Linked DNA regions of Homo sapiens: region 2 is linked to region 1. The links come from fine-mapping of genetic effects on gene expression. A gene starts in region 1. The other region holds a variant in brackets. All regions are shown on one strand. Distances are from middle to middle.

What was found. PIP is the estimated chance that this variant, and not a neighbour inherited with it, causes the effect. A credible set is the group of variants that fine-mapping cannot tell apart.
Region 2: its variant is the best candidate, but not a certain one, in a credible set for the expression of EPHA5 in tibial nerve (GTEx, PIP 0.67).

Annotation. Positions count from the first base shown.
Region 1 is chr4:65,668,583-65,673,582 of GRCh38, forward strand. EPHA5 (EPH receptor A5) reads right to left here and starts at 1,907. Exons shown (of 17, transcript NM_001281766.3): 1 at 980-1,907. The coding sequence starts at 1,160. EPHA5-AS1 (EPHA5 antisense RNA 1) reads left to right here and starts at 1,379. Exons shown (of 4, transcript NR_034138.1): 1 at 1,379-2,091; 2 at 3,194-3,299. RefSeq lists an enhancer at 1-56.
Region 2 is chr4:65,563,840-65,568,839 of GRCh38, forward strand. The region is part of intron 3 of EPHA5 (EPH receptor A5); the gene reads right to left. Among named protein-coding and RNA genes, the nearest start is that of EPHA5-AS1, 100 kb to the right of the region's middle. The variant G/C (reference allele first, on the strand shown) is at 2,048.

The sequences.
Region 1 (5,000 bases):
AGAGGTCTCAGGTCCAAGAGGCAGGCGGACAGAGGGGCTGAGCACTGTTCCGGGAGCACGAAGAGCGACACAGGTGTTGCTCCCGCGCCAGCTCTACTCTCCCAGAAAAAGGCAGGGACAGTATTCTGGGTCTGGAGCACAGGATTGGGGGTAGGGAGGGGGACTGGGTACTCCTGGATCAGGTGCTGGCCAGAGCAGGTCTTTTCCGTCTTTAAGACATGCCCAGGTGGGTTTTAGCGGCAACTTCCTAGCAGCGACACTCCCCCTCACCCCTCCTGCCGCGGCATCCCACCTTCTCGCCTTCTTCCACCTTGGCTTGAGTGTGACAATGAACTCCCCCAAGAAGAAGGGCACCCAACTGTGTGGGGCGCCTTCTGTCCTTCGCTATACCCCTCCCACGAGAAATAAAAGCTCCTGCCACCCACCCCAGAATAGCAGCTGGTGATGCCCTAAATAACAGCTCCCAGCAGGCACTTTCCCCAAAAATAAAAGCATCCAGCCACCCCCACAACGTTTCCCATCACTGGCCTCAAATAACGGTTTCTAAAAGCCCCACTGCTCCAGAGATCCTTGTCACTGAGCTTCCAACAGTTCCCACTCCTTCAAGCCCGAAATGTCACTTCCCCACGCGCCTTAAGTGAGGCCCAGCCGCACCCATCCCCCTGGAACGGGCCTCCATTCCCCAAAGGAGGCCTCGACCTCCTTTCCCCCAAGGTTTTCCACCTTCCCAGCCCCCCAACCAGCCTCTGTCCACACGCATGTTCCTTGCCCAGCACTCCGCAGCTAACGTCAAACAATGCAACCAAAAACCGCAGAGGGGAGCGAAAAGGCCAGTGGAAGGGGACGACAAATACCAATTTGAGATGAGACTGCGATTTAGTCTGCAGCAGCAGCGTCCAGCGCGCTGAGACCTGAACTCCCAGGCCCCGCCTAGCCCCTCCGCCCCAGGTCGCCACGGTCCCCACCCCCATCTCCCTACCTTCGTTGCTGGGGCTGGCCAGGAGGGTCCGGAGTGCGGCGCACAGGAGAAGGCACGTCCAGAGGGGAGCCCGTCGAGGTGCAGAGTAGCAGCCGGCCAGGGACGCTGGGGTGATGGGGGTGTCGCCGCCGCCGCTTGGGGGCCGCCGGCGTCCCGCACCCCGGGGCCCCGAGCCCCGCATCTTCTCCGAGCCTCCTCCGGTGCCGCTGTCCCGAGCGGCTCAGTCCACCGCTTCGGCCTCGCAGAGCGGCGAAGGGAGACTCGGGAGTCCTCCTTGTCCCCCCTTGGGGTCCTACGCCTTCTGGCACGCGGCTCCTCCAAATGTAGGAACCACGGATCCGGCTGAGACAGCTGAAGTTTGCTTCTGGCTCCTCTCGCCTCCCCCTTTGGTGGGGTTAAATGAAATATTAGTTCTGGTTGCTAGTGCAGATCTGGACTCGGATCAAGGGTGTCGAGAGGGTCCTGGGTCCTGTTCCTTTGCCTTTCAAAAAGACTTTTTACGGATTGAGAATTTTTAAATACCACTAGGGGAAAGGTGAAGGTTCTTTGCAGCCTTCAGTGTTGAAATGGACGAAGGTAAGGAAGGCAAATCATTTTAAGACGAAATCTCCGATTTTTTAAAAAAGGAGGAAAAAAGCAGGGTGGCTAAGGATAAAGAAAGAGGACTTGAGAAAATGTGGAGAATGAAAAACAGGAGAGCAGCGAGCAAAAGCAAAGATCCAGAGTTCAAAGAGACTGGCAGAAGGAAATAGCTGCGGGCTGAGTGCTGAAGAGGGGAGGGACTGACGGCTGCCGGCCGGTAGGAGCGCGGAGCTGCGCTGCGGCGGCCCAGGAGCTGCTGCGGTTCCCGCTGCTCGGGGAGCAGGCGGTGTGTGCGCGGCTGCGAAGTCGAGGTTGAAACTGCACCGCCAAGGCGCGCTCCTGCTGTGTCTGGAGCTCCGGCGTCTCCTCTGCCTCCCAGCTCAGCGCCTCCCACCCTCCTTCCCTCCTCCTCTTCCCAGCTCCCCCGCCCTCTGCTGCTCGCAGCCTCGCCAGTGAGAATCTACTGTAAGTGTGAGTTGCTTCGACGAAGTCACACACCCACGGAGGGAAGTAATCTGGAGGCTGCCTTGGTGAGTGTTGCCTAGCGGTCTCCGGGAAAGGCGCGTCTTCCTCCCGGGATAATTAGGGCAAGGAATCCTGACGACGCTGGCGAGGACTGGGGTTCCCGGGAGGCGGAAGGGAGATCAGCCCCAGCTCAGCCGGCGGCCCTTAGAGACGCGGGTCCCTCCGTTTGGCATCTTGCCTGCTGTCCCTCACAGGCTGTGGCATCAACAACCTTGTCGTCACATCGCCGCGCATTCGCAGGCTCTGCTGGTCCGTGGCTAGTTTCTTAAACACCCATACCGCTTACCGCTGCTGACTCTTTCTGTTCTTCCCATACTTTGATGGCTGGAATAGGATAATTACTCAATGTTTTCTTCAGAAGTAAATTGTAGAGTAAATAAAGAGGCGGTAGCTCTGTTTGAGATTTCAAGGAGTCAAAGAATTTGACTATTGAGATTTGTAGTGTGCCAGGTACTTTCATAGGTGGCGATTTAATTCATTTATTTCATTGATAAAATGTTTTAGTATTTTAGAAATTGGACGATATGCAGATACACGACATACATTCCAGTGAAATTAGCCTCGGTCAAATAAATTCAGGGTTTTGAAAAATTAATTATTTTAATTGATTGTGCCCTATAGCATTGGGAGATTTACAAACAGTGAAAAAAAAAACAGTTAAAACAATCAACTTTCTATGCTTCACCTCTATTATGTCTTTTCTTGCTTTAGTATATTCCCTCGATTTATTCATTCTTTCAAAGAGATACATTTGAAGGACAATTTTAGTACACAGGCATTTAAAAACAAAAGGCTGCAGAGAAAGCACTTACAGAAAGGTCTGATTATAGAAGAAAGATATCTCATTTAATTTCATGTATAGTAACCACTGTAAAGCTTGGGCTTCCGTTCACACCTAATAAAGGTGAGTCAGCTCACCAGTTTTGACATATCTAGAGCCTTGTTTGTCTCCACAATAAATTCCTCACTATCTTTAGCTGGTGACATTTGTTTTTTGTTTAAATATTTGCAATAAAGATGAAAGAATAAAGCAGCAGTGATGCAATTTTGTAAAGAGGTGAAAGCTCATCTTTGATTTCTTTTTTTCCTGAAATGTTTTGGCACCAGAAGTCTGAAAGCAGGTTCTTTTTATTATAATGTGCTCCGAATGGATGAAGCAAATTTAGAGGAAGAGCAGTGAATCAGTTTCTCAGTTTGGCAAAAAGCCTCACGGGTGAGATGGAAAGTTAAAATTTATGTTTCTATTTGAGGACCATTCAAAATGTAAGCTCCCCTCTCCCCTACAATTATAATTGAGTTACTTAAAAATATTTAAGCAGAATACCAACTACGATATCTAAAGCCCAGAAATATGTAGTAAAACTAATATGAGTTTAATGGGGCTTTGAGCTCGTTCCTTTACTTCTACAGGCTTCAGTATCCTCATCAGTAAAATGAGGAATTTGGAGAAGACAATCTTCAAGCCTTCTTCCCTTCCGTTGGTTGCATGTCTATGTGACTACCCTGTTCATCTATCTCCAATTATTTACTATTGGCCACAAAATAACCAAATTTTTCAGCCTAGAATTTAAAGCCTTCTACTACAAATGGTTTAAATATATTTTTTATTCTATACTACAATGTTAAACTCATTTTTCCCCTAAATTACCTCATGCCTCTCTGATTTTTCTACCTGTCATTCCATTCTAAAGAAATCCCACCTCTGGAAATATTTATCCGCCCCCCACCTCACCCCACCACAACACACACACACACACACACACACACACACACACACACTACTGTCATCTAAATCATACCCAGTGTCCTAGGAGAGCCAGGCACTCAAGATTAAATTCTTCTTTTCTCAACAAAAAAGTTACTTCGTTCTCCTCCTCAAAGTACTCATAGCTTTACATAAATCAACACAATGCCAATATTTTCTGAATCAAAGGTGGAATAAAATTGTCTAACTATATCTAAAGAGAAGAAAGACAGAATTTAAATCTGGTTTGTCAAAGAAAACCTGGGACGCTGGTCAGCATGGGCATAATTGTGTTATCTTCTCCCAACATAGCTAAGTTACATGATTGAGAATACAGAAAGCAAAATTCTTTGTATTCTCCACCTTAAATTGCAGCCATCTTTCTCATAGTTCTTTAATAATATTGATTACACATCTCTGAAAGAATGAACAGCTGTAAAGTTCATTGAAGCTGTAAAGTTCATGAAGTTCTGATGACAACAATGAAAATCATTTTTTGATCTAAGGAGGGTTAATCAGAAAAGGTAATGATGGTGGTTTGACTTGGACTTCAAGCTCAAAGGAGATTCACATTTGGCCACGTGTTGATGTCTTGGCATATTAATACTTTTTATTTTAACACAATTACATTGAACCATGGCATTGCATGAAAACTAGATTTGGTTTATATTTTTCTTTTATACTTATTGTTTTGCACAACAAAAGGCCATGCCATCAATATTGGTTTTGGTGCCCTATTGTTTGCATTTCTCATTTCTTGGAATAGCTACTATGACCTTAAAAGATGCAAGTGGTTAGTGTCTCCCAAGATCTGTGCTTTTGTGTGACTTCAGTACTAAGTATTCCTGAAGGAAGGATATTCAAAGTAACCTTGATAAGGTGCCTTGAAAGTTTACTAACCTCATAAAAAGTTTTAATATTATAGTTAGGTTCAGTGTATCAATAAGCCCAAATGTATCTTCCCTGCATTCAAAGATTCAAGAAAAGCAATTTTGACAGAAAGCCTTGCTAGTTTTTCCTGAAGATTTGCTATGTGTAAAGCATTATGTGACGTTTTTACCTTAACTATTTTACTTAATGCTGACACTTCAACCCTGATGTTGGTGTAATTATTATCCCCATGTTAATGATGAGAAAACTGAGGAAATGAGATTAGGTGATCCAAGTAGT
Region 2 (5,000 bases), 100 kb before region 1:
GTGGGAGCTAAATGACATCAATAGTATGTGTTCAGAAATCTTCCCTCTGTTTAAAAAATATCAAAGGCTAATAAATCAAAACAAGTACTATAACATATTCCACAAATACTAGAAATTTTCCTCTCAAACTATTTTTTGCCAAGTATCCTTTATCAAAGGATTTGGTGCTAAGTGTTGAACAAAATTATCATCTGTTGTTCAGCCAACTTACTCTTTGCTATGCTTCACACAGTTTTAAACAAACAAACAAAAAATGATTTCTTTGAGGCCTGATTTTACTTGTGCATACATATTTCACCCTGTATTTCTGTATCACAAATAACTCAAGATAATCATTTTTCTTGCATATTAATTGAAGGTGCTCCCAGGAATACCACATAGACACCAACATTAGTTTCTAAATCAAAGTACCCATAGGAGTTCTTAACCCAAAAGATGCTTTGACTAAAATACTACAACCATATCAACAAATATTTCTAAATGATAGCTCCTATTAAAGTTTAGGTAATTACTGGGGTCCTAATTGCTAGAAATTTAAATATTACATTAGGAGATTGTCAAAATTACTTATTCCTTTTCTTCCTCATTTTCATATGGTTTTGGTTTTTGTGAATCCAGAATTAACCGCCATACGTTTTGCTTTCTAGTGACCTGGCTATGAATATATTGTGACTTTGTTTTTATTGTATCATTTTATAAGCATATGTGCGTGTTAACCGAGCTCAGTCCCTATTTATACCAATCCTATTACTATAAACTTTAAACCCTTCTTAGCTACATGTACCAAGTTATTTAAAAATCTCACAGTAGAGTGGCTTATGTTCTGCAATGTTTTATACATTTCGTGAACTTCCCAACGTTACAAGGGTAGATAAATATCTGTTGTAATGGAAAAAAATGAAGTATTACTAGAATTAAGCAATGTATTTGTATTTAGGGTGATACATATATACTTTTATAGAAACAATTAATAATGCAAGGACACAGCATTACTTATCAGGGGCTTCTATTTCTCATTACTTGCATTTCTAATGCAAAGTGTTCTCTATGGAAATAAATTTCAAAATACTTTCACTGTTAATTTATGACCTAATTTTACACAATTGCATCCAGAAAGAAATCTTATAGTAGTCTATAATTTCCACTTATTCATTACATACAATCTATTAATAAATATTATACAGTTAATTAAAAATAGATAGAGGGCTGGCAGAAGCATATAGATATTTCACAGCAGTCACTTAACACTCTTCATATCCAATTGCAATGTAAGGACACCTCAGAGGGTTCCTTAAAAATTCACTTTAAAGACTAAGACTATTCCCAAATCACCTTTCTATAACCAACTTTTCCAGGAAATAAGATTCAAGGCCAATGGTGACCAATTTGCTAATGGATCAGAGTTAATAGACCTTTAGCAGACTAAATTTTATATTATTATGCAATCTTTTCAAAAGAGCACTTTAACAGTGGTGCCCAATATATTCAATCCAATTTCATTTCAATAACTCTTTTTAAGCCTTCACAAAGTATTTCATTTTGAAACTTCTACCCTTACATGCGAAAGGGACTCACAAACATATAATTAGAAAAGTCATATAAATGTTTTTCAGTAAAATTTAATAAGAGATTTCCAATAAGGCTTAAAGTAATTTTTATTTTGCTTGTACTCAAATTTATTTTATTTTACTTCAGTATTTTTGGTAATAAAATATATTCATAAAAATATAAGATTCTACTTATTACCTTGTTTTCATAAACAATACTTCAAATAATATTCTGCTTTCAGCAAATTTAGAAAATTTGAATATGTGCAAGGCAAAAGAAAGAATAGCAGACAAAAATAGCCATTAAAAAAAAAAGATAATCTGTAAAGCTAGGAGGATGCCAAACTCTAGCTAATACATATTATGGGAAATATATATGTGGCAGTTAAAATGCAATAAAAAAATTACAGAATATAAATGAAATATTAATTTAAATTAAAACTGTTTCTAAGTTTATAATTTTGAATAAACACTTTTTATTTCCTATTCTACTTTGAATA[G/C]GAAATAAACTTGGAGACTATTTCTATCTCATTTTTTTCCTCCCTGTTGATCTTTTCTTCAAATTTGGTATGTTAGAAATGCTGATATTTTATTTAGTCAATTCATGGGTTATAACCTTGAATTCTCCAATTCCTTCAAAATATCCTTTCAAACTTGTCTTTCATAATTCCACTATCCTTGGCATTACAAAGAGACCTCTGTGGGGGCCCTACTTCTACAACATGGAAATATGGTAATTAAGAGCTTTCTGCTCCCATTTTCTCATGACTGTGTAACGTGAAAAACAATGGGGTCTCCTCTTTCTGTTTAGCAATTCCATTCATGCAACAAAGATGTTCAGTGTACATGTCACAATATAATAACAGTCTAAATGGATTAAATTGCAGTGTGTAGCAAACACACAATTCTCTCTGGTAGATGTGTATAGATATTTTGTAGGGAACCACTTAATATTCTTCATATCCAGTTGCATCACACAAATTGACACCTCACATAGTTCCTTAAAAAATCCACTCTATGAAACTAATATTCTTTTGAAATACCTTTCCATATCAATTTTTTCAAGAAATAAACTGTAATGCCAATGGTGAACCATTTGCTAAATCAATTTCACGCCCTTTCTTCAATTCCACCCACCCATCTTCTTTATTCTTCCTTTCTTTTCTTCCTTATTTATTTTATTTTTTTGATGGAAATCTAGAGAGGCAGCAAAGTGCTACTCCAATTTAATTCACAGTAGAGGCACTGAGCGTATGAGCTTTAAGCTCTAAGGTGGTTAGAAACATCTGCTGGTTAGCAATGCCTCTTCCTGTCAGTTGTAAGGCTTGTCTGTATTATGCCACTCATGTTTAACAGAAGTAAAATGCAATTGACAGCATGCTAATTATTACATTTTTTTCTCCCCCAAACTGTAACATCACTAAAGGTCATCCAAAATATATAATGGTTGTTTTGGTACATTGACATTTGTTACATTTCTTTATTTTTTGATAATTTTTAAAAAATTTTTATAACGGAGGCTTGTTTTTGAGGGTAAATAGTGGGAATGTATATTTATGCATGGTCAACCTCTTATAGGTCTTATATACTTAATATAAAAGAACTATACACTATCTGACTACACACACCCATATACAAACACTCCACACTTTTATTTGTGCATTCATCAAACTCTGACGATTAACAGAAACTTAAAAATATTTATTTCTGAAGTGCTGTAAAAGCAAAAAGCAAACCAAAAAACAATCTTTAAGTTCATAGATCTTTATAAGACAAATTTCTTTTTATGTCTTGAAAAGTTGGTTTTTCAAATTATTTTTCTATACAATGCATAAGTCAGCAAACTTGGTAGATAATTTACTTCCAAAAATGAACTTCTTAGTAAACCCCTCTCTTCCGTCATTCAACAAGGTTTCATCAGAGCACTTATATTCTAAGTTTTAATACTTGGTCTTGAAATGCTTATAATATGTCAAACCGACAATCCTCATCATTACAAAAACATATACTATGTACTGGTGACATATTGGTGTATGTAAGTTAATATCAATAACTTCAGAATTTGGCTTTGTGAGTATTCTACCTATTAAGAAAAAGAGACATCTTAAGACAAGGGCTCTGACAAGAAAGAAAAGTAAATGTTCAAGTACAAGTTGGTGATAGCCAAACTGTCAGTATAAAACATACTGTTATTGAAAATGTAATGGAATAAAAATGCCATACTCTTTAAAATGATTTTTACAGAATTTCAACACATATCTAAGTGCATATATCTAAAAGCATATTTTGCAAAGAGCACTAAATACAGAATATGACTGCACCTATTAACCAAAGTGCTTGAGTAGTATGTTCGACTCAAAATAGTGAAACTCAAAATATGTATCAGTGGATCTTTCTACAGTGGGGAGTTTGGAAAAGTCTTTTATAATTGATCTTCTCTTTTAATTGACATTGGCCTATATTGTCAGACTTATAGTCATCCTTTAGTCTGATCCTCCTGTTTAAAATTCTGCCTGCTGATAAACTAATCCTATTCTTTGAATTTTTTTTTCTTCAGGGGCAATAAATTATTGGCTACTTTTCATACTCAAAATGTTGGTGCAGAAAAAAATGGAGATATATTCATGAATAATAGAAATTGAAAAAGTGTTTCATTTTCACTCAAAACCATGTTTAACTTCATGTAAAGGCTCTCTCTTGTTTTGGGTAAAATTTGTAACCATGACCCATATCATTTTATCTGCTCTAGAGAAAATGTGTCTGTTACCTCAGATGACAACTATATTTTTCAAACAACTTTTAATTTTTATTAAAGGTAGATAGCTCATTGAGGAAGTAAAGTACACCCTTTAAAGTGTGGTTCCAATAATAATTGTTGAAGGATAATTAAATAGTAAGTAGGAGAATTGAATATGCAGGTCTTTTTTGACACCTAACACAATTCTATCTCTCAAAATATTGTTGCATTTGAATTAACTATTTCAAATAATCAAAAACTCTGTCCTGTGATATAAAAAAATTAGATTTACTCACAATTTGTTATAAAATATCAAATAATCATATATTTGGACTATAATTTGATTTTAAATATAAATTATACACAAATGTGCAATATAATATTAAAAATTTTTATTAATAATTAACAACAACGCATCCCTTTTTTTTAAACATGTAAGCTTCATCCTCTGATATTGTGTTTTATTTTACATTAAAGGATAAATGAGCAAATGTTGTGAAATTACTATCATCCCATTTTCAAAGAATAAATTATTTTAGGAAGTACTTGTCTTGAAAGGTAAATATGTCATATCAATAGAAATAATATCTTAAATAGTTTATACACTTTTTCAAACCATAACTGATAAAGTGACTTACAGAAACAGTTTCTTACAAATAATAAAACAAAATAAATCTATCTTCAACGAATTTTCCAACTTTATTATTTTTAAGGGC